3 separate regions of the Homo sapiens genome follow, and all the other regions are linked to region 2. The links come from fine-mapping of genetic effects on gene expression. A gene starts in region 2. Each other region holds a variant in brackets. All regions are shown on one strand. Distances are between the middles of the regions.

Region 1 (10,291 bases), 32 kb before region 2:
GTCTGTGCTAAGCACATATTATCTAAAAGGTGGGGATTGCAGCTGGACGCGGTGGCTCAAGCCTGTAATCCCAGCACTTTGGGAGGCTGAGGCGGGCGGATTACCTGAGGTCAGGAGTTCGAGACTAGCCTGGCCAACATGGCAAAACCCCATCTCAACTAAAAATACAAATACATTAGCCGGGCGTGGTGACAGGTGCCTGTAGTCCCAGCTACTCGAGAGGCTGAGGCAGGAGAATTGCTTGAACCCAGGAGGCAGAGGCTGCAGTGAGCCGAGATAGCACCACTGCACTCCAGTCTGGGCGCCAGAGCAAGACTCCATCTCAAAAAATAAAAATAAATAAAAAATAAAAGGTGGGGATTGCTAATGCCAAGCTCAAATGGATAGACATTCCACAACCATTAGACAGTTCCATATCTCTGTTTCAAAGCACAGGAAGGATAGATAAACACTGTGTTCATTCCCACTGTTTCTGCAATTCTTGTGCAAGCGATGTTACATAACCTTAACCTGCTCGGATGAATGTTATAAAAGTTATTGGGTACCAGACATTTTGGAAAACAGCTAAAGAATAAAGTAACACCATTAAAGTTCAAAGTCTTAGTCTAATGTCTGTTCATAGCATACCGTTCCATCAGCCTGTTTCACAGCACTGGCTGAAGTATAGGACAATGGACTCAGGTTGTCTCCCTCAGGGGCATTCAAACTGACATTTAAAGGCAAAACAAACCTTCGAGGGAAAGATTTGGCTGCTGAATTATGGACCTGTTTGGGAAGAAGAAAGAGATGAAAATTGTCATTCATATGGTAACAGTATGTCCCAATAATTTAGATCCAGTCAACATCATTGGCATTCCTAAATATTTAAATAAATGATAATTTCCATTCATTCATCTACTTAATATTTGTTGAGTACCTACTATAGCCCAAGCAGTTTTAGACACTGGAGATACAGTCATGAATAAAGCAAAGTCTTTGGCCTCATATAATTTATATTCTAGTGGAGGAATGATAATAAAGAAATTTAAAAATTATAAAATATTTGTGGCCAGGTGCGGTGGCTCATTCCTGTAATCCCAGCACTTTGGGAGGCCAAGGCAGGCGGATCACCTGAGGTCTAGAGTTCAAGACCAGCCTGACCAACATGGAGAAACCCTGTCTTTACTAAAAATACAAAATTAGCCGGGCATGGTGGCTCATGCCTCTAATCCCAGCTACTCGGGAGGCTGGGGCAGGAGAATCACTTGAACCTGGAAGGTGGAAGTTGCGGTGAGCCGAGATCATGCCATTGCACTCCAGCCTGGGCAACAAGAGTGAAACTCCGTCACAAAAAAAAAAAAAAAAAAAAAAAAAAAAAGTTATTTAATTAGCATCAAATAAACAAATGATTATATAACAAAGAGTAAGAAACTAGAGAGTAACAAAGGGTGCTTTCCTTCTTCAGATTTGATCAGGTAGACCTCTGTGTGGAAAAGGATCAACTTAGTAAGCCTGGGTTGCTCAAACCCTGCACTATTTCAAGAAAGACTTGTTTTCATGACTGACCTTGGGCTGGTTGCTGGGAACTGAGCTCTTGGGATGTTCTGTCTGATAAGAGTGTTCTTGCATGTGCCAGTCCTTAAGTGACTCTGCAGTAGTTTGTCCAGATAGTTTATGCTAACAATGTGATTTATAATGAACACCTCCATTCCCTTGAGGATCTGGAACATCAGTAACTGAGGGTCATCATGTAGGGGTTTTATGCTTATATGATTCATCCCCAATAAAAACCCTGGACAAGCAGGCTTGGGTGGGTTTCTTTGGCAGACAACATTTTACACATGTTGTCACTAGTTCCTGGAGGAATTAAGCATGTCCATTGTGACTCTACTGGGAAAGGACTCTTGGAAGCATGTACCTGGTTTCCTCTAGACTTCATCTCATGTGCCTTTTCCTTTTGCTTATTTTGCTTTGTATCCTTTTACTGTAATCATGAGTCATGAGTATGACTATATAGAGTCTTTTTAAAAATTTTTAATAAAGATGGTATCTCACTATGTTGCCCAGGCTTGTCTCGAACTCCTGGGCTCAAGCAGTCCTCCTGCCTTGGGCTCCCAAAGTGCTGGAATTACAGGCGTGAGCTACCTCGCCTGACCTATTTTGAGTCTTATGAATCCTCCTAATGAATTATCAAACCTAGGGGTGATCCTGGGAACTCCCAACACAGCTTCTCCATAGAGATGATGTTTAAGCAGGAGACCCAAATAAAGTAAGTGTGTTTTTCCTGACAGTAAGTGCTTTAAGCCCATTTTCCTCTCTGAAATACTGTAGGATGGAGAACAAACTGCACCATTTCCTCCCATATACCTAGTCTATATGATCTCTGTAGCATGCAGAAATATTTTTAGTGAGTAAAGATTTAGTGCTATTCTTAAGATTCATAAAGTTATTAGCTTTTTTTTTTATAAAAGGTCACCATGGCTTCAGAAGTTACCAACTTTTTAAAAATGACTTTTAATTATATTTACAATTGTTTTCTCTTGCAAAACCATAGCTAACCCAAAAGACGCTTCAAATAATGGTAGATTACATTATATGGATCAACTACCCCATTGAAAACAACTAGAAATTATGGACAAAATGTTTAAAACAGCTGCCTGAAGGCACTGGTGAGCTAAAAAGACAGTGAAGAACAAAGGGGCCAGGTTTGGGATGAAAAGGAAACCCACAGAAACCAACTGGATACTGGGGCAAGTTTTTCCCTAACTACTTAAACATATGCTCAACATCATTAGTCATTAGGAAAATGCAAATCAAAACCACAATGAGATATCACTTCACACCCATTAGGATGGTTATTATTTTTTTAAAACCCAGAAAATAACAAATGTTGGTAAAAACGTGAAGAACTGGAACTCTTGTGCATTGCTGATGGTAGAAAAATGCTGTGGCCACCGTAGAAAAATAGTTTGGTTGTTCCTCAAAAAGTTAAACACAGAATTACATGATCTAGCAATTCCACTTCTAGATATATACCTAAAAGAACTAAAAAAAGGAATTTGGATATTTGTATGCCAATGTTCATAGCAGCATTATTCATAATACTCCAAAGATGGAAACAACCCAAGTATCCATCAACAGATGAATAAACAAATATTGTGTGTGTGTGTGTGTGTGTGTGTGTGTGTGTATACAATCGAATATTATTTAACCTTAAAAGGGAATGCAATTCTGATACATGCTACAACATAGATGAACTTTGAAAACATTATGCTAAGTGAAATAAGCCAGACACAAAAGGACAAGTATTGTATGACCCCACTTACATGAAGTACCTAAAATAGGCAAATTCATAGAAACAGAAAGTAGAATAGAGGTTACCAGGGACTGGAGGTGGGGGGAACAGGGAATTATTGTTTAATGGGTACAGAGTTTCTGTTTGAGATGATGAAAATGTTCTGGAAATGGATAGTGGTGATGTTGCACAACATTGTGAATTTACTTAATGCCACTGAATTGAACACCTAAAATGGTTAAAATGGTAAATTTAATGTTATATATATATACTTTCTACACCATAAAAAAAGAAATAATACAGAGATTTCCCATATATTCGTCATCCTTTTTTGCCAGTAGGAATGTCTTGCATAATTATAATATAATATCACAACTGGGAAATTTACATTGATACAATCCACCAACCTTATTCTAGTTTAACATGCATTCGTGTGTGTGTGTGTGTGTGTGTGTGTGCGTGTATTTAGTTCTATGCTATTTTATCATGTGTAAATTCATGTACCCACCACGCCACTCAAGATACAGAACAGATCCATCACCACAAGGATCCTTCACGCTACTTTTTGATAAGGGTATAGCCATAGCAACTCACTTACCCCTTAACCTTAAAGAGAAGGGCTTTTCAATAGTTTTGAGGGCTAGAGTGACAAAAGTTTGAATTTACGATTTTCCAAGAAGAGGAAGGCCTAGTAAACCTCTAGTCCTTTGGGTTGGGACCTCATAGGTCTGTACCCTATGAATAAGAATAAACAAGAAATAGTCCAGCTCTTGCATGGACTGAATCCTGCTTCAAATTATATAAGCAAGTGAAATTCTTCTCTAGAGGAAAATAACATCATCTTGTGTCTCAAAATATTTCCACAATTTTTAAAACACAATATTCTGCAAATGAAAGGAAATAACCAGCACATGAAAAGACAAGGCAACATGATTAAAAACCAAAATAAACAACAGATAACAGAAACAGAATCACAGAAGATCCAGATACTAGTTATCAGACTTTAACTATTCTAAATATGTTTAAGGAAATTATTTTAAACTGAGAATTGTGGTAGAGAACTATAAATTGGAAAAGAGAACCAAATCAATATTCTAGAACTGTAGATCTGCCTATAAGGAAATTTTCAAGTCTGGAAGGCTTTACTGTTGAATTATTCCAAATATTTAAGAAATAATATCAATCCTATACAATATCATCCAGAAAGAAGGAAAACAGAGAACAATTCCCAACTCATTGTATGAGACTAGAAAAACCACAAAACCAAAACCTAGTAAGAACATTATAGAAAAGAAAAAAATTAAAGGGCAATTTTATTCATGAACATAGATACAAAGAATTCTAAACAAAATAGTAACAAAGCAAATCCTGCAATATATTTAAAAGCAAATAAAATGCGACCAATTGGGATTTACTTCAGGAATGGAAGGGTAGCTTAACATTCAAAAATCAATCAATGGCTGTTATGAACATTTTTTAAAGAATCAGTCAATGTACTTCACCATGTTCACAGAATAAAGGATAAACGTTATATGATTATCTCAATAGTGCAG[A/G]AAAAAAACAGTTGATAAAGTCCAACATCCATTCATGACAAAAAATCTCAGTAAACTAGGAGTAAAAGGGAACTCTCCTAATCTAATAAAATGTATCTTTTTAAAAAGTTGTCCACACAAAACGTGCTAACAAATATTTATAACAGCTTTATTCATAATTGCCAAGAATTGGAACCAACCAAGATGTCCTTCAATAAATGAATGAATACACATTTCAGCGATAAAAAGAAATGAGTTCTCAAGCCACAAAAGACACAGAGGAACCTTAAATGCATATTGCTAAGTGAAAAAAGTCAGTCTGAAAAGTCTACATACTGTATGATTCCAACTATGTGACATTCTGGAAAAGTCAAAACTACAGAAATAGTGAAAAGATCAGTGGTTTCCAGGGGCTGAGAGGAGGAAAGGGGAAGGGACGAATGGGGGAGCACAGGGAGATTTTCAGGGCAGTGAACTATTCTGTATGATATTGGTAGATACATGACATTATGCATTTTTCAAAACCGGTAGAACTGTACAACACAGACCTAACCATCATGTAAAGTATGGACTTTAGTTAGTAATAATGTAACACTCCTACATTGATTCATCAGTTGTAACAAATGTACCATTAGCAGGAGAGGGAAATATGGAAACTCTCCATACTTTCTGCTTGATTTTTCTTTAAAAGTAAAATTGCTCTAAAAAACAGTCTATTTTTTTTTGGAAGTCCTTTATTGTAAAGGTAATTCTTTTGTCTGATGACAAACAGCAGCCACAGTGATTATTCTGGATCTCCACAATGGACAAATTCAATTTCTTCTTGAGACACAAGTTTACTTCTATATTTCTGAGGTAATGTTTTCATTACTTCTGCAGTGTCTGGTACATCCACAAATCCAGTAATTTACTTCCCTTAGAATGCTGGGAAATTGCAGAATCGTGAGATGGTTGCCCTGCTGATCTCAGAGCTTCTGGTACATTGGGTTTAGGATTGTCTCTTCCAGCAGGGAAGCTTATTAATGGAGCATGTGGCTTGACTACCTGAACGACACTGCTAGCAGATGCATCTTGCTGCCCATCATGACCCCCGAGAAGGGACAGTTTCTATTATATTTTTTTAATCTACAGCCACAGCATGCTTCATGGTAAAATGCTGCAAGCTTTGCCTCTCAGATTGGGAACAAGTTAAGGATGCCATTATCATCACTTATATTCAACACTGTACTGAAGATCCAGTGAAATAAGACAAAAAAAAAAAAGCCAATATACAGCTTACATGTAGAGTTAGAAAAGGAACTATCATTACTTGCATATGATATTATAGATGTAAAAATCTAAAAGAATCTATAATTATTAGAATTTGTAAGTGTAATTACTATATTAGTGAATATAAAATCAACAAACAAAAATCAATTGCCGGCCAGGTGCGGTGACTCATTCCTGTAATCCCAGCACTTTGGGAGGCCAAGGTGGGTGGATCACTTGAGGTCAGGAGTTCAAGACCAGCCTGGCCAACATGGTGAAACCCCATCTCTACCAAAAAAATATGAAAATTAGCCAGGAATGGTGGCACATGCCTGTAGTCCCAGCTACTCAGGAAGCTGAGGTGGGAGTATTGCTCGAACTCAGGAGGCAGAGGTTGCAGTGAGCTGAGATCACACCACTGCACTCCAGCCTTGGTGACAGAGTGAGACCGTCACACTGTCTCAAAAAAAAAAAATTGCTATATAGCAACACTAACATAAAATGAAAGCAAAAAATAAACAACATTTAAAATAATGTAAAAAAAAAACCTAGGAATAAATCTAACAAAAGATGCAGAAAATATGTAACCAGAAAACTATAAACATTGAAAGAAATTAAAGAAGTCTCAAATAAATGGAAAGATATATTGTGTTCACGTACTGGAAGACTCAACATTGTGTAAAGAGGTTAGTCCTCTCTCAAATTGATACATTGGTTCAGTGCAAATAGAATTAAAATGTGACCATATTTTTGTGTGGGGAACTGACAGCTGATTCTAAAATTTCTACAAAAACGTGAAGGGCCAGGGATGGCCATGACACTCTTTTCAAAAGAAAAATATTAGGATAACTTGACACTAAACCTTAAGACTTTTTTAATGCAGTGCACAAGTAACCATAAGTAGAAACAATGGAACAGAATATACAGTCCAGAAACAGAATAATGCATATACAGATACTTGACTTCTCTAGAAGATAACATAGGATAATATTTTCATTACCTTGCCATGAGAAGATGTCTAAAACAAGATGTACAACGTATAAGTCATAAAGGAAGAGACTGTATACTGGGCCATATTAAGTTAAGAATGTTTATTCATTAAAAGGCACTATTAGGATAATCTGATAAAGATAGCTAGAAAAATACCTATAGCAATTTTATATTTAATAATGAATTATTAAACATTTTTCAACACTACCTATTCAACTTCTATTCACTATCTTGCACTTCTATTCAACTCGAAGTCCTAGCTGGTACAGTAAGGCGAGAAAAAGAAATAAAGCCCTAAGTATTAGAAAGAAAGCTGTCATTATTTTCAGGTAACATGACTGTGCACATAGAAAATCCAAAATAATCTGTGGATCAACTATTTGAACTAATAAGTGAATTTAGCAAGATCTCTGGATATGAAGATAATATACAAAATCAATTGCATTTCTATAAAGAGCAACAAACAGAAAATGAAAGCTTAAAAGATACCATTTACAATAATTTCAAAACACACAAAAAGAAATGTAGTATCTTTATACTGAAAACTATAACTTTACTGAGAGAAATTTTAAAAGACCCAAATAAATGGAGGGATATTCCATGTTCATGGATTGGAAGACTCAATATTGTAAAGATGTCAATTGTCTCCAAATTGATCTACAGTTGCAATATTGTATCAGGTTTTTTCCTTGCAAAAACTGACAAGTTGACATCAAATTTAAAAGTTTCTGCACAGCAAAGGAAACAATCAACAAAACGAAAAGGCGACCTATGGGCTGGGGAAAAAAATTGCAACCACATATCCAATAAGGAATTATACTCAAAATTTGTATATTTTTAAATTTTTTTGTAGAGATGAGGTCTTGCCATCTTGCCCAGGCTGATCTTGAACTGCTGGGCTCAAGCAATCCTCCCACCTTGGCCTCCCAAAGTGCTGGGATTACAGGCGTGAGCCACCACACCTGGCCTCAAAATTTATAAAGAACTCTTACAACTCAATACCAGAAAAACAAATAACCCAATTAAAAAATGGGAAAAGCCGGCCGCCGCCCCGTCTGGGAAGTGAGGAGCGCCTCTGCCCGGCCGCCCACCGTCTGGGAACTGAGGAACACCTCTGCCCAGCTGCCGCCCCTGCCGCCCCAGGAGTGCCTCTGCCCAGCCGCCCACCCTCTGGCAAGTGAGGAGCGCCTCTGCCCGGCCGCTGCCCTGTCTGGGAAGTGAGGAGCGCCTCTGCCTGGCCCCCACATTGTCTGGGATGTGAGGAGCGCCTCTGCCCGGCCCCCGCCCTGTCTGGGAAGTGAGGAGGACCTCTGCCCAGCTGCCGCCCGTCTAGGATGTGAGGAGCGCCTCTGCCTGGCCGCTGCGCAACCTTCCAAGTGTGAAGTGACAGCCTTGTGTGTGATCTTTTCTGTCTTCCCCAAGTTTGCATTTTCAATATTAAAGTTTACTTTTTAATTAAAAGTTAAAAATAAATTAATTAATTAATTAATTAAAAATAAATAAAAAATGGGCAATGGACCTGAACAGTCATTTCTCCAAAAATAGAGGCCAGGTGTGGTAGCTCACACTTGTAATCCCAGCACTTTGGGAGGCTGAGGCAGGAGGATCACTTGAGCCCAGAAGTTTGAGAAAAGCCTTGGCAACATAACAAGGCCCCTGTCTCTACAAAAAAGTTTTAAAAATATTAGCTGAGTGTGGTGCCATGCACCTGTAATCCCAGCTACTTGTGAGGCTGAGGCAGGAGGATCATGCATGCCCAGGAGTTTGACAGCAGCCTTGGCAACATAATAAGACCCTGTCTCTACAAAAAAGTTTTTAAAATATTAGCTGAGTGTGGTGCCACGCACCTGTAGACCCAGCTACTTGGGAGGCTGAGGCAGGAGGATCACGTGTTCCCAGGAGTTTGAGGCTTCAGTGAGCTATGATCATGCCACTGCACCCAGCCTGGGCAACAGAGTGAGATCCTGTCCCTAAAAGAATAAAATAAAAAATAAAATAAAATTTGAAAGTCCAATAGGCATATAAAAAGGTGCTCAACATCACTAACCATAAGGGAAATACAAATTAAAACCACTATATAAAACCTCACACTCATAAGGATGGCTATTATCAAAAAGACAAGAGATAACAAATGTTGGCAAGGGTGTAGAAGAAAGGGAACTCTAGTACATTGTTGGTGGGAATATAAATTGGTACAGCCATTATGAAAAACAGTATAGGAGTTCCTAAAGAAATAAAAAATACAGATGACCCTTGAACAACACGGAGTGGGGTAGAGGTGCCAACCCCCTACATAGTCGAAAATCCACACATAACTTTTGACTACTCAAAAATTTAACTACTAATAAACTATTGTTGACTGGAAGCCTTACCAATAACATACAGTTAATTAACACATATTTTGTATTTCATATGTATTATATACTGTATTATTACAATAAAGCAAACCAGATAAAAGAAAATAAGAAAATGTTATTAAAGGCTGGGTGTGGTGGCTCAAGCCTGTAATCCCAGAACTTTGGGAGGCCAAGGTGGGCAGATCATCTGAGGTCAGGAGTTCGAGAGCAGCCTGGCCAATATGACAAAACCCCATCTCTACTAAAAATACAACGGGCATGGTGGCAGATGCCTGTAATCCCAGCTACTCGGGAGGCTGAGGCTGGAGAATTGCTTGAACTGAGGAGGCGGAGGTTGCAGTGAGACGAGATCACGCCATTGCACTCCAGTCTGGGCAACAAGAGCAAAACTCTGTCTCAAAAAAAATAAAATAAAATGCTACTAAAAGTCATAAGGAAGAGCAAATATATTTACTATTCATTAAGTGGTAGTAGATCATCATAAAGGTCTTCATTCTCATTGTCTTCACATTGAGTAGTCTGAGGGGGAGGAAGAAGAGGGGTTGGTCTTGCTATCTCAGGGGTGGAGAGGTAGAAGAAAATTTGCATATAAGGACCCATGCAGTTCGAATCCATGTTGTTCAGGGTCAACTGTACAACATATGACCCAGCAATCCCTCTCCTGGGTATATACTCAAATGAGATGAAATCACCACCTCATGAAAATAGCTGCATTCTTACGTTCATTGTAGCATTATTCATAACAGTCAAGAAACAGAAACAACCTAAATACCCATTGACAGATGAATGGATAAAGAAAATGTGATATATACACACAATGGAGTATTACTCAATCTTAGAAAAGGAGATCCTGACGTCTGCTACAACATGGATGGACCTGGAAGACATTA
Region 2 (10,166 bases):
CCACTTTTTGATGGGGTTGTTTGATTTTTTTCTTGTAAATTTGTTTAAGTTCTTTGTAGATTCTGGATATTAGCCCTTTGTCAGATGGGTAGATTGCAAAAATTTTCTCCCATTAACAGAGCATCTTGACTCCCTGGATATTTGCACAGTCAAGCACTGATCCAGAGAGATGAGCTCGTTCAAGATTTGAACAGCAAAGATTTGCATGTGCAAGATTACAGCAGCTTAAACTGGCCATTTTGAAGTGAATGTATCGAAGGTCCAAACAAGAAAGATCGGCACCACTGAAGTTCAAACCCTGGCATCACAGTTCTGACTTGGTTGGAGTTGCTAGTAAAAATCGGACAAATTCCTTTTGGGATATTGGTGAATGATCCTCCAGTGGTTGAGAATTCTTTATTGCCACTTTTAGGTGTTCAATGAGTCAATACCAAAAAATCTTGCTTCTTCTAACACACCTAATAAATTAATGCTATCATTTACAATGAGCTGTCCACGATGCAAGTAGTTCAAAATGGGTTCAAAGTACTCAGGACTTCGGTCAATTAAGAAAGCTCGGCCGGGCGCGGTGGCTCACGCCTGTAATCCCAGCACTTTGGGAGGCCGAGGCGGGCGGATCACGAGGTCAGGAGATCGAGACCATCCCAGCTAAAACGGTGAAACCCCGTCTCTACTAAAAATACAAAAAATTAGCCGGGCGTAGTGGCGGGCGCCTGTAGTCCCAGCTACTTGGGAGGCTGAGGCAGGAGAATGGCGTGAACCCGGGAGGCGGAGCTTGCAGTGAGCCGAGATCCCGCCACTGCACTCCAGCCTGGGCGACAGAGCGAGACTCCGTCTCAAAAAAAAAAAAAAAAAAAGAAAGCTCCTCTATCATCTTGCTTACTTCCCCAGACACCTTTGTCCTTAAACATGTGGGCCAGCATACTGTCAGGTTCTTTATTCACTAAAGTGCTCCGTGTAGTTGTAAAGTACCGCCCTCCAACATTTAATGTCAGCCACTCTGTGTGGAATCCTAACAATCCTTCAGGAGGCTTAGAATCTGTCTGAGGATCAATAAATGGCTCTCCTTCACAAACAAACAAAACATCATCATCCCTGTTCAAAGCAATATCATCAATCAGTCCACCTTTCCCATTATACACACTGGTGGCTTTTATGCCGAGTTTACTGCTGGCCACAGAAAGCAAATCAGATAAAGTTCCATATACAACAACTACCTTTCCGTTCTTGGGGCTGCCGTTCAGGAACAGGGTCATCCGCCTCATCACGCTGCCCCCACTGGGTCCTGAGTGGGCCACCACCCTCCCACCTGGTCCTCCTCCCACCTTTTTCTCCTCCCGCCCTTCCCCCCCTCCACCCACTTGGATTCGCCTCCCTTCGCCACCTTTCTGCCCTTGGGGACACACCACACACATGCACTCTGTCCCACACCCAGGGCTCAGCCAGTCCTCCTTCCCACCCTGCTTCTAGGCTCCTCAGCCTGCCTGGGTTTTTCATTTATTGGCATCGATTTATTGAATGCTATTCAGGTGCAGACCACTGTTACAGGTAGTGGGGATACAGGATGAACTAGAAAAAGTCTCTACCCTCATCAAATTACATTCTAGTGGGGGAACAGAGCTTAACACTCAAATAACAAATAAAAAATACCAGACACTGATAACACTGTGTAGAGAATTAAAATAGGTAATTATAATTAATACAGTCAGCCCTCCATATCCATATATTCCACATCTGTGGATTCAACCAATCTCTTGAGTCAAAAATATTGTGGGAAAAAAATGCCACAAAGTTCTGCAAAGCAAAACTTGAATTTGCTGAGTACTAAGACAAATCCATGGGAATGAAGTATGTGTAAGCATTGTATTAAGTATTATAGAGTAATTTAGAGATGATTTAAAAGATAATGGGAGGATATATGTAGGTTAAAAGCAAATAAAAGCATTTTATATAAGGGACTTCAGCATACTTGGATTCTGGTGTTTAGGGGGTCCTCTAACCAATGCCCTGTGAATGCTGAGGGATGACTGTGCTGGCATTTTTATGTTGGGAGATCAGGAAAGGCTCAAAGGACATGAGATTTGAGTTGACATCTGAATGAAAAGACCAGTCTTGGGAAGATTAGGGAACATAGGTGAGAGAACTAATGCTAAGATGCTGAGAAGATACAACTGTGCCCAGTTTGAGGAACTGAAAAAGACCATGTGTCTGGCAAGTGCTGGGTGAGGGAGAGAGTGGTATGAGGAGACATTGCCCTTCCTTCAGGAACTTGTGGGGAAACAGCTCAGTCACCACACTGACAGCTTCTGACACCTCTCTTCTTTTGGTACAAACCACAGAGGGCTTCAAATTTACAATAGTCTACAGAGCAGAAAAAGCAGGACATTTTGTTTAAAAAGTCTCCTTTCTTCTCCTCTAGGCTACAGTTTCTTTATCTGTAATCAAAGGGATGGAATGGAAATATTAACCTCACAGAGGAAGCAGATATTAATGCATATTCCACAGAACCAGCCCATGCCAAGAAATCCAAGTTGTTCTCCAAAATCAAGGCTTACTTATCCTTCCCAAACTCGAATTTCCCAGGTCCAATTCGAAGTAGAGAGCCATTGAGCCACTTAGGAAAATGTCCCCAGACTCGAGCAGAGATGCCCCGTGGAGCCTCTTCCACTGTGGTCAGCAGCGGTGCAACACATGGCAGACCCCGACACTGCCCAAAGACGGCTTTTTTCTGAGGAGTATTTCCCATGTACCTTTTGAAAACTGTGCAGAGGAAACCAAAAGCACAAAAAATATTTTACCAAATCTTCTATAAACTTGCCTGTTTCCCACAGACAATAATCTTATCAACTGGCAGCTTGAGGGAAACATAAACCTAACACCAAATACAGGCTCCAAATTTCTTCTCTCTCCTTCCTCATTCCCAGACTATCAACGCTTTGGTTCTCCATTTTCAACCCACAACAATTCTTCTATTTTTTGTAGTACTAATCTGCCTAAGAACTAACTTAGGACTACTAATCTGCCTAAGAACTAACTTAGGACTTCAATTACTATTTTTATCATTTCTCATAGTTGAACAATACCTGTCTTTTTACAAGAATAAATCTACATGCCAACCCCAGATGTGCTAAGAGCAACCTCGTTGTTATAAAAATGACCACCATTCAATATTATCCAATTATATTGACCCCAGTAATTTAGATATACCAGAATGTGATTCCAAAGACTTCATAGCGATTCCTGTGAATTTAATAAGATCTTAAATTTAATTCCTTTTATTTTAATGGCATATACATGAAAATACAAGGCATTTTCCAGTAGAAGGGTGTCAAAAATTAAATTATGCAGTGATATCCAGTCTGAAATTACCTAAAGTGCAAAAGGCACAAGAAGTAAAAATCATAGTTGTATAATAAGGAACTGAAACTTCTCCCTATTATTTTAACATTACTGAGTGTTCACAAGGCAGTACTGCCTAACATAGAGGGGTGGTCAAATAAATAATTAAGTGCTATAAAATAGAATTCTTTATCTCATAAAAGTTTAAGAGTGATTCAGAAATCTAGGCTAGAAAAATGAGCTAACATATAGGGACACTATTACTCTGAAGAAGTGAGATTTGCATTCTTTTAGCAAGTTGTTACTATCCCATTTCTTTCAAATCTTTCAAAAATTCAGCTTGAAGCACACGAGACATTCTACTCCCCTATATGACATGTAACAAATGAGTCAAACCTAATTCTTTACTGATTTTTCAAATAAAATTCTCTTTCACCCTGAATGTCTTTCCCAATGTCCTTTTCTCTAGTTCTAAGAAAATTCCAGCGGGGCACGGTGGTTCAAGTCTGTAATCCCAGCACTTTGGGAGGCCAAGGCAGGTGGATCACCTGAGGTCAGGAGTTCGAGACCTGTCTGGCCAACATAATGAAAGCCCATCTTTACTAAAAATACAAAAAAAAAAAATAGCCGGGTGTGTTGGCCGACCCCTGTAATCCCAGCTACTCAGGAGCTGAGGCAGGAGAATCGCATTGAACCCAGGAGACAAAGGTTGCAGTGAGCCGAGATCGCAGCACTGCACTCCAGCCTGGGCAACAAGAGCGAAACTTCGTCTCAAAAAAAAAAAAAAAAGCAAATTCCATTAATTGGTCAAGGTCTATCTCCAGTGTTACAGTACTTCCCTTAAGAGGCAGCACAGTGTAATATTTAAGGGTGTGAGCTGGGGCTCTACCTGGCTCCAGACTGGTTGGTTTCAAATATGCCCTCTCCTAAATAAGAAGGCTTGAGAAAGGCACTTATCACCTCTCTGTGGTCTGTTTCCTCTTTTCTAAGATGGTGATGATGATAATTCATATTACTTCTAAGGCTATAAGTAATAAATGAGTTAGTTTATGTAAAGCTTTTAGAACAGAATACTCAAAAAATGCTATTATTATATTTACATAGCTTTTAATGATCAGTCCAATAAGGTGTAATATCTCCTTTATTTTATTCAGTTGACGAAGTACTTGGTACTGCTGAGAATAAAAAGCATTAGAATCCTGAAATAAAAGAACTGACTGCCTAGTAAACAGATCACTGACACTGTGTTTTATTTCAGCATTGTTTCTCAGAGTCTGGTATGAGGACTACTTGCAACAGAAATACCTGGTGTTACTGCTAAAATGCAGTTTCCTGGACTCCATTCTGGTCCTAATAAATCAGAATCTCTGGGGAAGGACAAGCAGGTATTCTTAAGCATACTAAAATCTGGGAACTACAGTATCAGAAGTACAAAGAGGATGCTTTGAAAAGATAGAGAAGGAAACTCTCAGGTATTTATGTTACTCTACTTTTATTAACATTATGCACCATTTATCTTATTCTCAGATTAAAATAAATTCCCTAAGGTCAGGTATGTAATTTTACTCATCTTACTTTTTTAAGTAAATTGAATGGCCTGATTGGGCATTTGTCTAAGTAGAGATACACAAATTTAAAGCATTTTACATTGTAGAAAATATTTACATGTCTATATGTTGTATACTCTATTGCATGCTACTGGTAATCTGCTACATGCTCTTCAAAGTTTCCATAGAATTTGACATTAACACTTTCTTAAACTCCTTTCTATTCGTAGCTTCTGAGACATTGTCCTATTCTAACTTTCCTGCTGCCCTATAACTACTCTCTGCATTCTGCTAGTTTTATTACTTATTAGCTGACAACCTTGGGCAAGTTACTTAATGTCTCTGAGCCTCAGGTTTTTCCATGATAAAATGGAAATAAAAGGAGGTTAATACTTCCTGTTTATGTCTGTTGTCATAATCAAATATAAAGATAGTGGATGCTTTCCAAATGTTAATTCCCTTTATGGGCTCCTTATCCCCCTTACCACTTCATGAATGTTCCTAAGGTCCTACCTTGGATCTTTAATCTCAGCACTCTCCCTTGGCAATCTCATCTAGTCTCTTAATTTCATCAATTACTTCTTGCAGGTGACTTTCAACATGTCAAAATAGAATGTTTAATTCCCCCCCCCCCGCCAATCAATTTTCTTCATCTAGGATATTTCCCAACTCCTTCAGATGAAATTTACTCACCTAACTCATCCTTCAAGATCCAGTTGCCATGTCATTTGCTTTATAAACACAGCATTCCCCTTACCTACAGCAAGAACTGATTCTCCTTAGTCTGAACTCACAGCATCTGTTTATAGCTCTCATATGGACCTTATCTTATCTGTCTTGTATGATAAATGATACTACCAGTACTCCTTGAGTACAGGGTCTGGTGTTTGTCTCCTCTCTCCTTCCAGTACGTAATACATTCCCTTGCATACTGCAAACATTAAATTACTACATTAAGTAATTTTAAAATTTATAGTGCATATTAGTATGATTTCTGAAAGCTCTAGATCAGCCAATTTCTATACATAAAATCATGTAACAATGGTAACTATAATAGAAGGCTATAAAACATAAATGAGTTTTAAGGCAGTCCCCGCAAAATGCAAATAGAGAAACCAAACAATTACATTAGAACGTGTGGCAGTGATTTTTCAATTTAGAAAAGCCTAAATATTGAATATTCTTCTTATTGCAAATCCCAAAGAATACCAAGTCCCTGAATCCTGCCTTAAATATTGCATAAAATATACAAATGTGAAGGCTGTTTCCCTGACCATGAGGAAACAATCCTAACTCAGCCTTCTTTAACTTCCAGGACTCTGCGGAATTGCTATCTCATCTGAGCCACACAGGACACAAAGCTTCAGAAGCTCCCAGCAACCTTCAGGAAAGAGGCACAGAATTCTAAGCGCAGACTGGCAAGAAGAGGAGGATGAGGAAGAGAAAGGGGCAAACCCTCTACCTGGGAGCCGGTGCACCATCACAGGAAGGAAATCCACTGCAGTGGCAGAATGACTCCTGATAAAATGGAGAAAGACTCGAAAAAACATTTTTGTATTGAGCAGATCCAGTGATTTCCAAATCCTCTCACACTGGCAGTTTTGAGTACTACTAAACAGTGAACACGCACAGAACTGCCTGGACTGTCCCTCCCTCACTGACAGGTCAAAGAGAGGACGCAGCTTAAGGGGCGGGGCTTATTTCCATGACAACCGTCCAAACACCCTAGCTATAATACGCAGCTGTTTGAAATATTAAAATTAGACCACCAATAGTGGTCTCCCCCGCCCTAAACTTTTCTTTTTCAAACCTGTTCTCACACTACAGTTAAGTCCGTTTATCCTGATGCACAGCATCAATTTTTTTATGCCACTCCTCTTCTGGAAGATTCCGACACAGAATAAAGTCCGAATTTAGACTGCCACTAGAGGACGCTACAATCTGGCAACAATTTACCTTTCATCCTTTTTCTCTGCCTTTAAATCACTTCATCCTTCCTTTTCTTTTCTATTCATTAATTTTACAGAACATTTTCTGACAATCTAGCATGAGTGAAAGTATGCCCTTAAAATGTATATGACTTTATTAACATTTTTAGCACCAATGTAGCAAATACTGTGCTACAAAGTAAGAATACCAAGAAACAAGATTGTCCCTGCTCTCCAGTTTAGACCATACACTATTCCCCTTCATGAATTATCATCCCAGCAAAGTGACTAACATACCATGATACGTTTGTTCTTCTGTGCCACTGAAGAAACTTTTCCCCTGCCTGAAATATCCCCTTTCCTTTTCAAAAATCCAATTTAAAATCTACCTCTCTGACTCCCTTACCAAAAGGTCTTCTAGTAACTCCCACAGCACTGCCACAGAGTTGCTTTTAACATTAACATATCATGTTTTCCTAGCAAAATTGTATTTCAAGAAAGAAGTGGTTAAAATTGTCAGAAGGGAGTGTCTTAATACATATAGCAGAGTACGAAGATAGTTCGGTATATATTTTGATTAGTAATCAATGAAAAATAACTTATAAATTTGTGATATTTTATTGAAATAGTAAAGAGTAACATTAGAAGTGTAAATTAAAGGGCAATAGTATTCCTGCAATAGCATTTCTCCAGTTGTGAGATAATAATAATTATTATTATTTTCTGAGACAGAGTCTCACTCTGTCACCCAGGCTGGAGTAGAGTGGCACAATCTCGGTTCACTGCAACCTCTGTGTCCCGGGTTCAAGTGATTCTCCTATCTCAGCCTCCTGAGTAGCTGGGACTACAGGTGTACGCCACCATACCCAGCTACTTTTTTTAATTTTTATTAGAGACAGGGTTTTGCCACGTTGGCCAGGCTGGTCTCGAACTCTTGACCTCAAGTGATCTGCCTGCCTCAGCCTTTCAAACTGCTGGGATTACAGGTGTGAGCCACCATGCCTGGCCAAGATAATTACTCTTGTCTACGTGGATGGTACCAAAGCCATCCAAATTTGATTTAAAAAATAAGCCTTCGACACCCAAGAATGATCAATAAAAAAATAAATAAATAAGCCTTCATGATTAGGCTTTCAGGCACCTTTATACTACAAGGTATAACAATTCTGAACAGTGCTGAACAGTAAACACATTGTGACTTAAAATCAGTTCTCCAGTCTTAATCATATCAAATGAAATGATCAAATCAATTTACTGAACCTGCAAAGGGAAGAACTAGATGTTAAACAATGGTGATACCATCAGGATATAACAAGTATATTATGAAATCTAGTCTCAAACAATCTGTTGGCCTTATTTTTCATATTAGTAATAAATGCTTAGAAAAAGAACATTTCTTAATGATGGTAGGTCGAAATCCAGATGACATGTCGTATTAACTCACAAATCTTCTTGTTGTATTTAGTTTTAAAAAATTTCCTTTTGGCCGGGCGAGTGGCTCATGCCTGTAATCTCAGCATTTTGGGAGGCTGAGGTGGGTGGGTCACCTGAGGTCAGGAGTTCGAGACCAGCCTGGCCAACATGGCAAAACCCCGTCTCTACTAAAAATACAAAAATTAGCCGGGTGTGGTGGCAGGCGCCTGTAATCCCAGCTACTCAGGAGGCCGAGGCAGGAGAATCACTTGAACCCAAGAGGCAAAGGTTGTAGTGAGCCAAGATCGCACCACTGCACTTCAGCCTAGGTAACAGAGCAAGATTCTGTCTCAAAAAAAAAAAGCAAAGGAAAGAAAGAAAAAATTGAAAAAATTTCCTTTCCTTCTTTTTTTAGAGAGAGTGTCACTCTGTCACCCAGGCTAGAGTGCAGTGATGCAATCATAGCTCACGGCAGCTTCGGATTCCTGGGCTCAAGCCATCCTCCCACTTCAGTCTCTCAAGTAGCTAGGATTAGAAATGGGAGCCACTGCAAGTGGCAAAAAAGAAAAAAATTCATTTCTAATAATTACTTTGTTGACCTCCAACCTATTCTGTGCCACCACCTCTATCAACCCAATAATTTTTTCCACTTAACCAATTTTCTTTAGCAAGTATTATTTTATTTCACTTTTGTCATCTTTTCTTATATGAGTATTTACATCATGTGGTGTTTATGCCTTAAAATAGTAATGTGATAAAATGAGATTTTATTTTAGAGTTTAGAAGGCAGCAAGGCAAATGTGCAGTCTCCCTTAGGAATAACAATTCCCTGTAGTACTATTTGCAATTTTCTGACTGCTTATATTGGAAAAATATACATGTAATAAACTGAACTGCCTATATGATTGAAAAATGGGTGCTATTTTGTTTAAAAATCTGGTTAATATAGCTATCCCATATAGTAATATATAACATAGAAAGTTTTCAGTAAAATCATAGCAGTACTTCACATTAAAGGGATAATTTTTTTAGCTAGATGAGTAGTATAGATCCTCCAGTCCAAATTCAATTTCTCAATTATAATACGATTGAAGTGACCTCCCAAAGTCATCTTGTTGTTTAAGCCAATCTATTTACTTCTGGATCACTAATCTTTATCCCATACCACACTGCTGCTAATGTTTCTAAATATAATTCATTAACTGCACATGTTGATGTGGTTGATGTGTAAAAAAGCCAACTCATACAAGGTTCTGGTGAGTAATTTCTGGTTTTTATTTTACTACTTTTACCACAAGAAAATAATTTTAAGCCGAGAGCTTTTATTAGTCATACATAATAACTAATAGTGAAAATAATCAAATGGAAATAGCACACAGTTATGTCATTATATTCTAAGAAACTGGAAAAATCACCTCTAAGGTTTTAATCTTCTTTTATAATCCTGACCATAAAAAAAATTTCAAAATTATCTCCAAAACTATCTGATATTTAAACAAAATATTCTAAAAGTATAATATTATTAAACATTATAAATTAACTGAATCCTTTTTTAGAAGTTTCAGAAACACTAAGAAGTTTAAGGAAAAAATAAAAGAATCCACATAAGATTTAAATAATTTACACTTCTATAAAATGCACTAAATATTTGACCCTCAAAAGAAAAGTGACGTAGTTCATGTTAATGGCCAGCTTAGGACATTAACATGAACATTAATATTAACATTAAGGAATTTAAAAGTTCCTTTTTAAACCTAGAAATTCAAGGAGTTTCCCCTTCTCTATTCGAGATATACATTTTCTTTAACAACTCGAGAGCTTTCAAAGCATAAATGTCATTCTTTCATTATAACAATAATAGGTTTAAATTCTCAGCTTATTTCAAGTATATATTTTATCTGTGTAATGTGTTTGCAATCACTGTAAACCTCTGTCGCAG
Region 3 (10,291 bases), 58 kb after region 2:
TTCTTCTCTATAAATGTGTCTGTTCTTCAGATTATCTTCTGAACTGGTTGCAACAGCTTCCTGATTCTCTCATAGATTAAGTGAATAGAATAAAATCTTTAACGTGTTCATTTTTACATCTGTTTGAGAATCGTGACTTTATCTTATTTTAAGAGTGGTCTTTTAATAGGATAAAAGAGAGACAGGCAATATAGGAAAATTGGATAAAATGAGGGGGAGAGGAAGAGACAAAAGGAAAAAAAGGCCATTTTCTTGTAAAGTCTGACAAAATAAATTTGTTAAAAGTCAGGTCTTCTGAAGGATTCAAGTCAATATAAATTTTCCTTTTTTCACATATTGTTGAGTTGTGGCATTAGTGTAATTGGGGAAATATACTTAAAAATAAACTTTTCTCTCAACCCAGTAAATCTCTCCACAAAGGAAGAGAAAGAAAACACACTTATTATTGAATAAGCATTAAACCAGAAAGTGATGCACATCCCAAGCAATTCACTAAAAGATTGCAAAGGCAGAAATAAATCTCACCCTTTCATACAGCCAGACAGACGCAATCCATTACACACGTGTTCTCAAGATAAACAATCATCAGTCCAAGGAAGAGGACTTGACAGCGCCATTCATAACACATCGTTCATCCTAAATTCACCTGGTAACAGGGGTGACCACCTGTGTTAGTCACTTGGTTTAATACAAAGGAAAAAGAAACTTCTGCTATCTTCTTGGCAGCAGGGAGTTTTGCCACTGGGTGCCAGGCACCTGCCGAAGCTAGGCTCCTACACTCTCACAAAAACTGCGACACAGGGAAATGATTTTCCCTGGAAGTTTACATTCAGAAGAGATGGCTCCTGGGTCCTTGAGAAAGACATTCCTGGGTTGTAAAGCTAGCAAAATTCGTATTTAAATTTTACAAGGATTTTATGTATTCTGAAGAGAACTTACACGTTTTCTAAAGTAAATACTCTAAGAAAAGGGACCAGGGCAGGTCTCATCCCTTATTTTATTTTATTTTATTTTATTTATCTATTTATTTATTTTTTATTTTTATTTTTTTTGAGATGGGGTCTCATTTTGTCGCCCAGGTTGGAGTGCAGTGGCGCCATCTGGGCTCACTACAACCTCTTCCGCCCAGGTTTAAGCAATTCTCTGCCTCAGCCTCCCGAGTAGCTGGAAGTACAGGCGCCTGCCACCACATCCAGCTAATTTTTTTTTTTTTTTTTGTATTTTTAGTAGAGACAGGGTTTCACCATCTTGGCCAGGCTGGTCTTGAACTCCTTGACTTTGTGATCCATCCCCCTCGGCTTCCCAAAGTGCTGGGATTACAGGCGTGAGCCACCATGCCTGGCATCCTTTATTTTTAACAGGAAGAATTGAGCTTCTTATTTTTGCCTTACATGTGTGAATCATTACTGAGGTTATTATAATATCCAACTGCACACACCCTCACCTCCCAACCTTTAATGCTCAGCGCCCACACACAAGTCCAGTTTCATCTCCAAAGGCATGCAGTTTCATCCCCCTTAGGCTTGCAGGCTCCTTTGTGAGTCTAAGTGTCAGAAGACGGGGAAAGAGAGGCTCAAGCTTGTTTGGCATTTGAGGCCAAAAGATGACCCCATCACCACCAGACTGGTTGTTCCTGGAAGGGTCACTGTAGGAGCTAGGGTCACAGATGTCCCAAGAAGGTCTAAGGGGCTTTCCACTTGCTGCAACAGTCTAGACTAAAGAGTTCCTTGAAAAAAAAACAAGCTCATGTCTCACCGTTAGTTCAGTCAGGGGTTCTCAAGACAACAGCTCTGTGGACATAGTTACTTTCTCAGGAGGTAAGTCTGCCCCAAGACAGCTGGGTAAGGCCAGCTTCCAGCACCAGCCATTTCACATGCCAAAAGCTGTGCCCTTCTCCTGCTGCCTTCGCCAGTGCAGGGGCCGTCAAGCTGGTTTCATCTCCAGCCATTGTGGTAATTTTATGGCAGGAAACTGGAACTCCTGGCCTTATCTGCCCCCAAGTCTAGAACTGGACCGTGCAGTTTCCTTCCAATGAAGGTGCCCTAACCTTGACGCTGAGAGTGGTAAGAGATTGGACTCTTAGAGCTTGTCCTTTCGAGAGGTTCTTGAGTCCTTTATACAAAATTTTGACCTCTTCTTTAAAGCTATGGACATTGAAGAAATTGGAAGGAAGGGAGGTACAGTTATATTCTTTCCCTAGGGCATTATAGGAAAAAAGTCACAATTCCATAGCAAAAAAAGCCAATTGAGTGATTTCCTTGAGTAATTTTTACTGTAAGTGATTTGCTGCCTCTGCTTAAAAGTCAAGAAGTAGCATCTTCTTTAAGTTCTGCCTCACCAGGCTTCCAGCTACACTTAAAATTAATTAGCTAAGAATGTAGGAAATCATCTTTCTGTGTTCTCAATGCCCAAAGTCAGCCTTGAAAGTAAAGTGTACTTCTCCTTTGCAATGACGAAAAGGAGGTATGTTTTAGAAATAGACTTTGACTAACTAGTCCTACTGACATTCTAAAGCAATCAAAATCACAATGCCCTTTTGTTTGTTTGTTTGCTTTTTGAGAGGACAGGACTGCTTCATTCCAAAACACCCATAAATTAAAATTAATTTCAAAACACCTCCAAAATAGAATAGTTTTTGCCATAGTTCTGAGTCATTTTTTAACATCTTTCTTCTTAATTGGATATTATATCCCTAATAATTCATACCTTTTTGTTTTCTGGTTTTTTTTGGGGGGGGGGTTGGTTTGGTTTGGTTTTTGGTTTTTGAGACGGAGTCTCGCTCTGTCGCCCAGGCTGGAGGGCAGTGGCGAGATCTCGGCTCACTGCAAGCTCCGCCTCCTGTGTTCATGCCATTCTCCTGCCTCAGCCTCCCTAGTAGCTGGGACTACAGGCGCATGCCATCACGCCCGGCTAATTTTTTTTTTTTTTGTATTTTTATTAGAGACGGGGTTTCACCGTGGTCTCAATCTCCTGACCTCATGATCCGCCCACCTCGGCCTCCCAAAGTGCTGGGATTACAAGCGTGAGCCACCGCGCCCTGCCAATTCATACCTTTTAAAGCATATAGAAGAGTTTGAAACAAAGTGGATTAACTACCGTGATTTTTTAAACTACAGCTATTACTACAGTACTGCCAGAGTACAATTGATTTAGCTCATCGTTGCAACTGCCCAACTGAGCAATAGGAGTGGGTTTTTCCACCCAATTTTGTGGGAAACGACCTGAAGAGAAAGTTATATTGATGTTAAGCAGCTCCACTATCCGCGTGACTAATCTTGGTTCATAAGTTTCATTGGGCCTATGACTCACTTCTCTATTTTAGATATTTATTGCCCAGGAAATAACACTGATACCATTAGAACCCGTTTCCAGTTTGAACGATGCCAAAATTACAAGTCAGCACAGGAAAAAGCTCAGCTCCTATGTGTTAATTACAACATCAATGCAAGCAAAAAAGAAAAAAGTTTGAGCTTTTGCAATCCTTCATTTATCCAGCATTTGTGACCAATGGGATGTTCTATATGTTGAGAAGGAGAAAGAGGACAGTCGACGGACCAGACCAGACTGCCCTGCTTGTCTGAGCCTTGGTGTGATCGCCAGGGGGGAATGCATATGGGGTTCAAGTTTAAGGGTCACAACCTTACATTTGTCCAGTTACCCGTATTAAAGATTAAGTGCTAGCCATGCTCTTAAGACATAGGACATAAGCCAAAATATAAATGTATTCATTTTTTATGCACACACACACACACACACACACACACAATAAAACTGTCAAATGAACAAAATTCCAGTGTCCATTAGTCAATATCCTGACTTCCCAGTTTTTTAAAAAAAGTCTCTTTAGAAACCAAGCCATTATCAGAAGTTTGCTTTGAACACATTTTATTGGCTTATGTGCCTGTCCATCAAGTCTGTGAGCTTCTGGTGTCTTTTTTTTTTTTTTTTTTTTTGAGACAGAGTCTTGCTCTGTCGCCCAAGCACGATCTTGGCTCACTGCAACCTCCACTCCCCCAGGTTCAAGCGATTCTCCTGCCTCAGCCTCCCAAGTAGCTGGGACTACAGGCATGCACCACTACGCCCGGCTAGTTTTTGTATTTTTAGTAGAGATGGAGTTTCACCATCAGCCTGTTGGCCAGGCTGGTCGCGAACTCCTGACCTCAAGTGATCCACTCACCTTGGCCTCCCAAAGTACTGGGATTACAGGCGTGAGCCACCACGCCCAGCCTCCTGGTATCTTTTTCATCTCTGTATCCCCAGGACCCAGCACAGTGCCTGGTACATAGTAGATACTTAAATATTTTTTAATATATGAGTGAGTGAATAATAAGATGTATATGAACCCATCTGCAAATTTTAAGGTGGTGTCATTAAGCTATGACAGATGAATGTACCCATCTTCACAGCAGGAGCAGTGGACTTATGAAAGCAAACACAGGAAACAGGGGAAGATGCACATGTATTAAGTCACGATTAACAGCTGGGCGCGGTGGCTCAGGCTTGTAATCCCAGCACTTTGGGAGGCTGAGGCAGGTGGATCACTTAAGCCCAGGAGTTGGGTAATGGCCGACACAGCATGGTGAAAGCCCATCTCTACAAAAAAAAAAAAAAAAAAAATTAGACGGGCATGGTGGTGTACACCTGTAGTCTCGTTACTTGGGAAGCTGAGGTGGGAGGATGGCTTGAGCCCCGGAGGTCGAGGCTGCAGTGAGCTGTGATTGTGCCACTGCATTCCAGCCTGGGCAACAGAGCAAGACCCTGTCTCAAAAGAAAAAAAAATAATTAATTTTTTTAAAATTATGTAAAAGCAAGATTAATGTTGTAATGCCAATTAATGTTTTTAGATGACATTGTGAGAGACATAAAGTACAGAAAATAAGGCTTTCAACGCATTTTAGACAACCAAAGTACATTGACGTGAAGAGGGAGAAGAAAGGAACCCTCAAAACTAAAACTTCCTACTTGTGCCACTGTGTCCACCAACTCAGAAACGTGGGCTTCTGTACCTCATGGAA[A/G]ATGGCAATGTCTCCTCTCCATGGGAGGTTCTTTTAAATTTTATTTGCATTCATATTACCTTTGAGGGTGGGAATGAGGAAAAACAAAAATATGGGTTAGTCTATGAGTGAAATTTTTCCAGAGAATATTGTCAGGATCATATTACCTTGGAAAAAGATACAATAGAGGCCCATATTGATCGTGTTTAGGTGAGATGCTGAGTGTGTTTCGGTTAAAATGTACATTGAGTTGAAGATACCCTATAGTGGTTAGACCCTGACCTGGCCAGAAGAATATTTTAATCTACTAAACTTATTAGATAAAACAAAGAAGCTAAATTAAAAAGTATTGAATTCTCCAAGATTCTAAGTCACAGGAAGTAATAAACCCATACCAAATAAGCCCCTAATTCTGCAGTAGTAGCTTTGAGGGAGAGAAACCAGCTTCGAGGGAGATGAAACCAGTTTGGGGGAAAGGGAGGAGGTGCCCTGGCCACAAATTTAGCAGGGCCACCAACATAGCTGAGTCATGGCTCAGGAGGCACCTTTAATACTATGTCAACCATCTGTCACATCCATCTTTCTTTTTTTTTTTTTTTTTGAGATGGAGTCTCTCTCTGTTGCCCAGGCTGGAGTGCACTGGTGTGATCTCAGCTCACTGCAACCTCCGCCTCCCAGGTTCAAGCAGTTCTCCTACTTCAGCTTCCCAAGTAACTGGGATTACAGGTGCCCACCACCACACCTGGCTAATTTTTTTTGTACTTTTAGTAGAAATAAGGTTTCACCATGGTGGCCAGGCTGGCTTCAAACTCCTGACCTCAAGTGATCTGCCCATCTTGGCATCCCAAAGTGCTAGGATTACAGGCATGAGCCACCACACCTGGCCCACATCCATCTTTTTAGGAAAGAATATTCAGATTAGAAACAGGAAAACTGGTGGACAACAGAAAGTGCCACTCCTTTATTCCTGACGTCTAAGATATGAATTGAACTTCCTTTTAAGTGTATGGTATTTTAAAATATTTGTGTTGATTAAAAAAAAAATGTATATATATATAAAGGTCGGGTGTGGTGGCTCACGCCTGTAATCCCAGCACTTTGGGAGGCCGAGGTGGGTGGATCACCTGAGGTCAACAGATTGAGACCATCCTGGCCAACATGGTGAAACCCCGTCTCTACTAAAAATACAAAAATTAGCTGGGTGTGGTGGCTTGTGCCTGTAATCCCAGCTACTCAGGAGGCTGAGGCAGGAGAATCACTTGAACCCAGGAGGCAGAGGTTGCAGTGAACCAAGATTGCGCCACTGCACTCCAGCCTGGCAACAGAAAGACTCCGTCTCAAAAAAACAAAAACAAAAACAAAAAAAACAGATAGTGAGATGGTTTGGCTCTGTGTCCCCACCCAAATCTCATCTTGTAGCTCCCACAATTCCTGTGCGTTGTGGGAAGGGCCCAGCGGCAGACGATTGAATTATGGGGGCAGGTCTTTCCCCTGCTGTTCTCATGATAGTGAATGGGTCTCATGAGATCTGACGCTTTAAAAAATGAGAGTTGCCCTGCACAAGCTCTTTTTGCCTGCTGCCATCCATGTGAGATGTGACTTGCCCCTCCTTGCCTTCCACTGTGATTATGAGGCCTCCCCAGCTATGTGGAGCTATAAGTCCAATAAGCCTCTTTCTTTTGTAAATTGTCCAGTCTCGGGTATGTCTTTATCAGCAGTGTGAAAATGGACTAATACAGATGGCAGTTCTGACATACACTACAATGTGATGAACCTTGGGATATTATGCTAAGTGAAAGAAGCCAGTCTAAAAAAGACAAATACTGTATGATCCCACTTATATAAGGCTTGGAATAGTCAAATGGATAAAAACATAAAGTAGAATGGTGGTTGCCAGAGACCAGAAGGAGGAGGAAATGGGGAGTTTAATGGGTACAGCATTTCAGTTTTGCAAGGTGAAAAGAGTCCTGGAGCTGGATGGTGGTAATGGTCATATGGCATTATGAATGTATTTAATACCATTGCATTGTACACTTGAAAATGGCTAAGATGGTAAATTTTATGTTATTTATATTTTAACACAATAAGATTGGAAAAACAACTTTTATTATAAAAAGTTTAAAACTTGCACAAATACTCATCATCCAGCTTCAACAATTATCGACATTTTGCTTATCTCATTTCTTCTATTTCTCCACTCCCCCCTTATTTCCCTTATAGATTTTTAGGTGTTTTTTTTTTACTTGCATGGTCTAATTATGATCATGTCATCCAAAAATCCTGCTGTATTGTTATTTTTTCCCTATATTTGTTCCTCATTTTTTTAAGAATCCAATGATTCTATGGTTAGTATCTCTGTTAAACAGAAATGAGGGAGGACAGGAAACATTCTTGCTTTATCTTAGGCTTTTTTTCCTTTTTTTGTTTTGAGACAGAGTCTCACTCTATTGGTTAGGCTGGATTGCAGTGGCACAAATCTCGGCTCACTGCAACCTCCACCTCCTGGGTTCAAGTGTTTCTCCTGCCTCAGCCTTATGAGTAGCTAGGACTGCAGATGTGCACCATCACGCCTTGATAGTTTTTGTATTTTTAGTAGAGACAGGGTTTCACCGTGTTGGCCAGGCTGGTCTCGAACTCCTGGCCTCAAGTGATCCACCCACCTCGGCCTCCCAAAGTGCTGGGATTACAGGTGTGAGCCACCGTGCCTGGCCTATTTTATCTTAGTTTCGATGAGCTTATCTTTGCTATTTAACAAATGCTGGCTCTTTGTTCTATGCATGTGCTCCTTTTAAGTTCAGACAAACAGGAACATTCAGCAAAGTTTTTCACTCAGTACTGGTGCGGGCATCAGGAGATATACATGTTGACACATATCTATTTCTGTTGGCTTTCTGGAAATCAACTGCATGACATAACCAGGACTTTTTAAAGGCTCATGATGATTTACCTAGAAATTCCTATTCAAGACTCTATCTTAAGGAAATAATCAGAGATGCAGTCAAAGATTGATGTATATCATTTTGAATAGCAATGGAGTACTCATGTTATATTTTTGACCACCCAGAGGCCATCCCCAGCCCCTTTCTCCCTTGTTAATGCAGAGACTGAGAACAGCAGACACTCGTTTCCCTAAGCCTTTACAGCAAGAGGTGGCCAAATGTGCCAGCTCTGATCAATGAACTCTAAAAAGAAGTCTGCAGGGAATGATGAAAAAGATGTTCTGACGACCAAGGCTTTTACTGCCCTACCTGCAACCCTGCTTCCTGCCTTTGAATCAATCAAAGGAGAATGTGGTACTTGAAGCCATTCCAGCTGTACTGTGACCACAAATTGACGAGCCTAAAAGTGACAGGCCAACATGCTGAGGATGAGAACAGAGAGGCAGAAAGAACTTTAGTCTGAGATGACATCCTTAACCGCTGCATCAAAACTGGACCTGCCTACCCAGACATCTTTTTCTATGAGCGATTCTGTGGTAGTACTCTTTTAATGGGAGATAGTGGGTGTGTATTCTTCTGCTTGCAGCCAAAAGGAAACCTACCTTATATGTATGAATATCCTACAATTTATTTAATTGGTCCTCTAGTTACACATTTAGCTTGATTCGATTTTCTTTTCTATCAGAAGTAACAATGTTGATGAATGTTTTTGAATATGCATCTTTGTCTTTTCGTGAGCATTTTTTTTGGTCTTTGTCTTTATCCTCTGCATCTGAGAAATTTATTTATTTATTATTTTTATTTATTTATTTATTTTGAGACGGAGTTTCACTCTGTTGCCCAGGGTGGAGTGCAATGGTGCGATCTCCACTCACTGCAAACTCCACCTCCTGGATTCAAGCGATTCTCCTGACCCAGCCTCCCAAGTAGCTGGGATTACATGTGCCCACTACCACACCCAGCTAATTTTTTGTATTTTTATTAGAGACGGGGGTTTCACCATGTTGGCCAGGCTGGTCTTGAACTCCTGACCTCGGGTGATCCGCCTGCCTCGGCCTTCCAAAATGCGGGAATTACAGGCATGAGCCACCGTGCCTGGCCTGAGAAATTTATTTACATTTGTCTTCCTTTGCTAATTTTAATTTGACAGAATTAATTTTGCTTTTTTACTCCTTATCCTGTGTTTTTCATTTCCTTTCAACCCTTCCTTTTCTTTTTCCTCTTTCATCACACCTAGTTTATCTTCCATCTTAGCCTACCTTCATCTTCTTCTGTTACAGAGCTCATGACTCACTCACTTCCACTTAAGATACCCAACAATTTCCTAGAACTTTTTCCTGGCTTCCGCAAAAAATCATTTGGACCTATGCAAAACTTCTGAACCTCTATTATACTTTTTTCTTTCACTTGTTTTATAGTTTTGTTTTGTTTTTTTAATAGGTCCCATGCTGATTTTTTTTTCTCCGTGCTCAATTTTGAACAGGGTGATAGCTATTCAGATTCAGTGTTTGTTACCAAGCAGAGTGAGTGAGGATTTCCTTTGGTTCTGCTTTCTGTCTGATAGCTGGATGGTTGAATCCTCCTTTAAAATCTGTACCTGCAGCCTTGGCAACATAGCAAGATCTACCTCTACAAAAAATACAGAAATTAGCCCAGCGTGGTGGTGTGCACCTGTAGCCCTAGCTACTTGGGAGGCTGAGCCAAGAGGATCACGGGCGCCCAGGAGTTCAAGGTTACAGTGAGCCATGATTGTGCCACTGCACTCCAGCCCAGGTGACAGAGCAAGAACCTGTGTCAATCAATCAGTCAAAACAAATAAAGTCTCTATCTGGAGGGCAGGTCATGTGCATGTGTCCCAGCCTCATTCCCAGTTTCTAGCCATTTTTCACTTGGTGTACTTCGGCTCTGCTGAAGCTGCATCTCCCTTTTGCTTCTATTTCCTGGTTTTCTGTTAGTCTCAGCTAATCTACTACATGAGGAATTGTGATTTTTTAAAAATGGAGCCCTAGTAAGATTTTCCTTGTTCTCTCCCCTAACTCTAAATCACACCAGGGTTACACTTGAATTCTGGTTAGTTTCCCCAAACTTTCTGCCCAACAGTTTTTTGATTTGTAAAATTTTTTTTTCCTTTTTCTTTTTTTTTTTTTACACACAAGTGAGAATTAGACAGTTCTTCCAATAGTTTTTTGAAATTCATGTGATTGAAAGAAAGAAAAAAGGAAAAGAAAAAAATCTCAGCTATAGAAGCGTGATTTTTCTTTTTTTGGAGTTGGGGGAAAAGGGTGCAACCTCCGGTGAAGGAGAGACTGGATGAGAAGCAGGAAATCTGCTCCCCCTAGTGGAAAGAAAGAGATACTT

Direction of the effects. Positions count from the first base shown, and alleles are read on the strand shown. Sizes are in standard deviations (SD) of each study's normalised expression. Not every link is listed here.
In carriers of allele A in region 1, the expression in gastroesophageal junction of the gene that starts at base 6,526 in region 2 tends to be higher than with G alone (small effect, 0.28 SD a copy in GTEx).

What was found.
Region 1: its variant is fine-mapped to the expression of BCO2 in gastroesophageal junction (GTEx, PIP 0.97).
Region 3: its variant is fine-mapped to the expression of BCO2 in whole blood (TOPMed, PIP above 0.99).

What each region holds. Positions count from the first base shown.
Region 1 is chr11:112,204,198-112,214,488 of GRCh38, reverse strand. It overlaps BCO2 (beta-carotene oxygenase 2), which reads right to left. Exons shown (of 12, transcript NM_031938.7): 9 at 628-765. It also overlaps the pseudogene MRPS36P4. Among named protein-coding and RNA genes, the nearest start is that of PTS, 17 kb to the left of the region's middle. The variant A/G (reference allele first, on the strand shown) is at 4,828.
Region 2 is chr11:112,171,872-112,182,037 of GRCh38, reverse strand. It overlaps BCO2 (beta-carotene oxygenase 2), which reads right to left and starts at 6,526. Exons shown (of 12, transcript NM_031938.7): 1 at 6,349-6,526; 2 at 2,556-2,760. The coding sequence starts at 6,436. It overlaps TEX12 (testis expressed 12), which reads right to left. Exons shown (of 5, transcript NM_031275.4): 5 at 9,482-10,166. The coding sequence ends at 10,122. It also overlaps the pseudogene KCTD9P4. RefSeq lists a silencer at 3,999-4,165.
Region 3 is chr11:112,113,594-112,123,884 of GRCh38, reverse strand. No RefSeq gene overlaps it. Among named protein-coding and RNA genes, the nearest start is that of SDHD, 32 kb to the right of the region's middle. The variant A/G (reference allele first, on the strand shown) is at 5,016.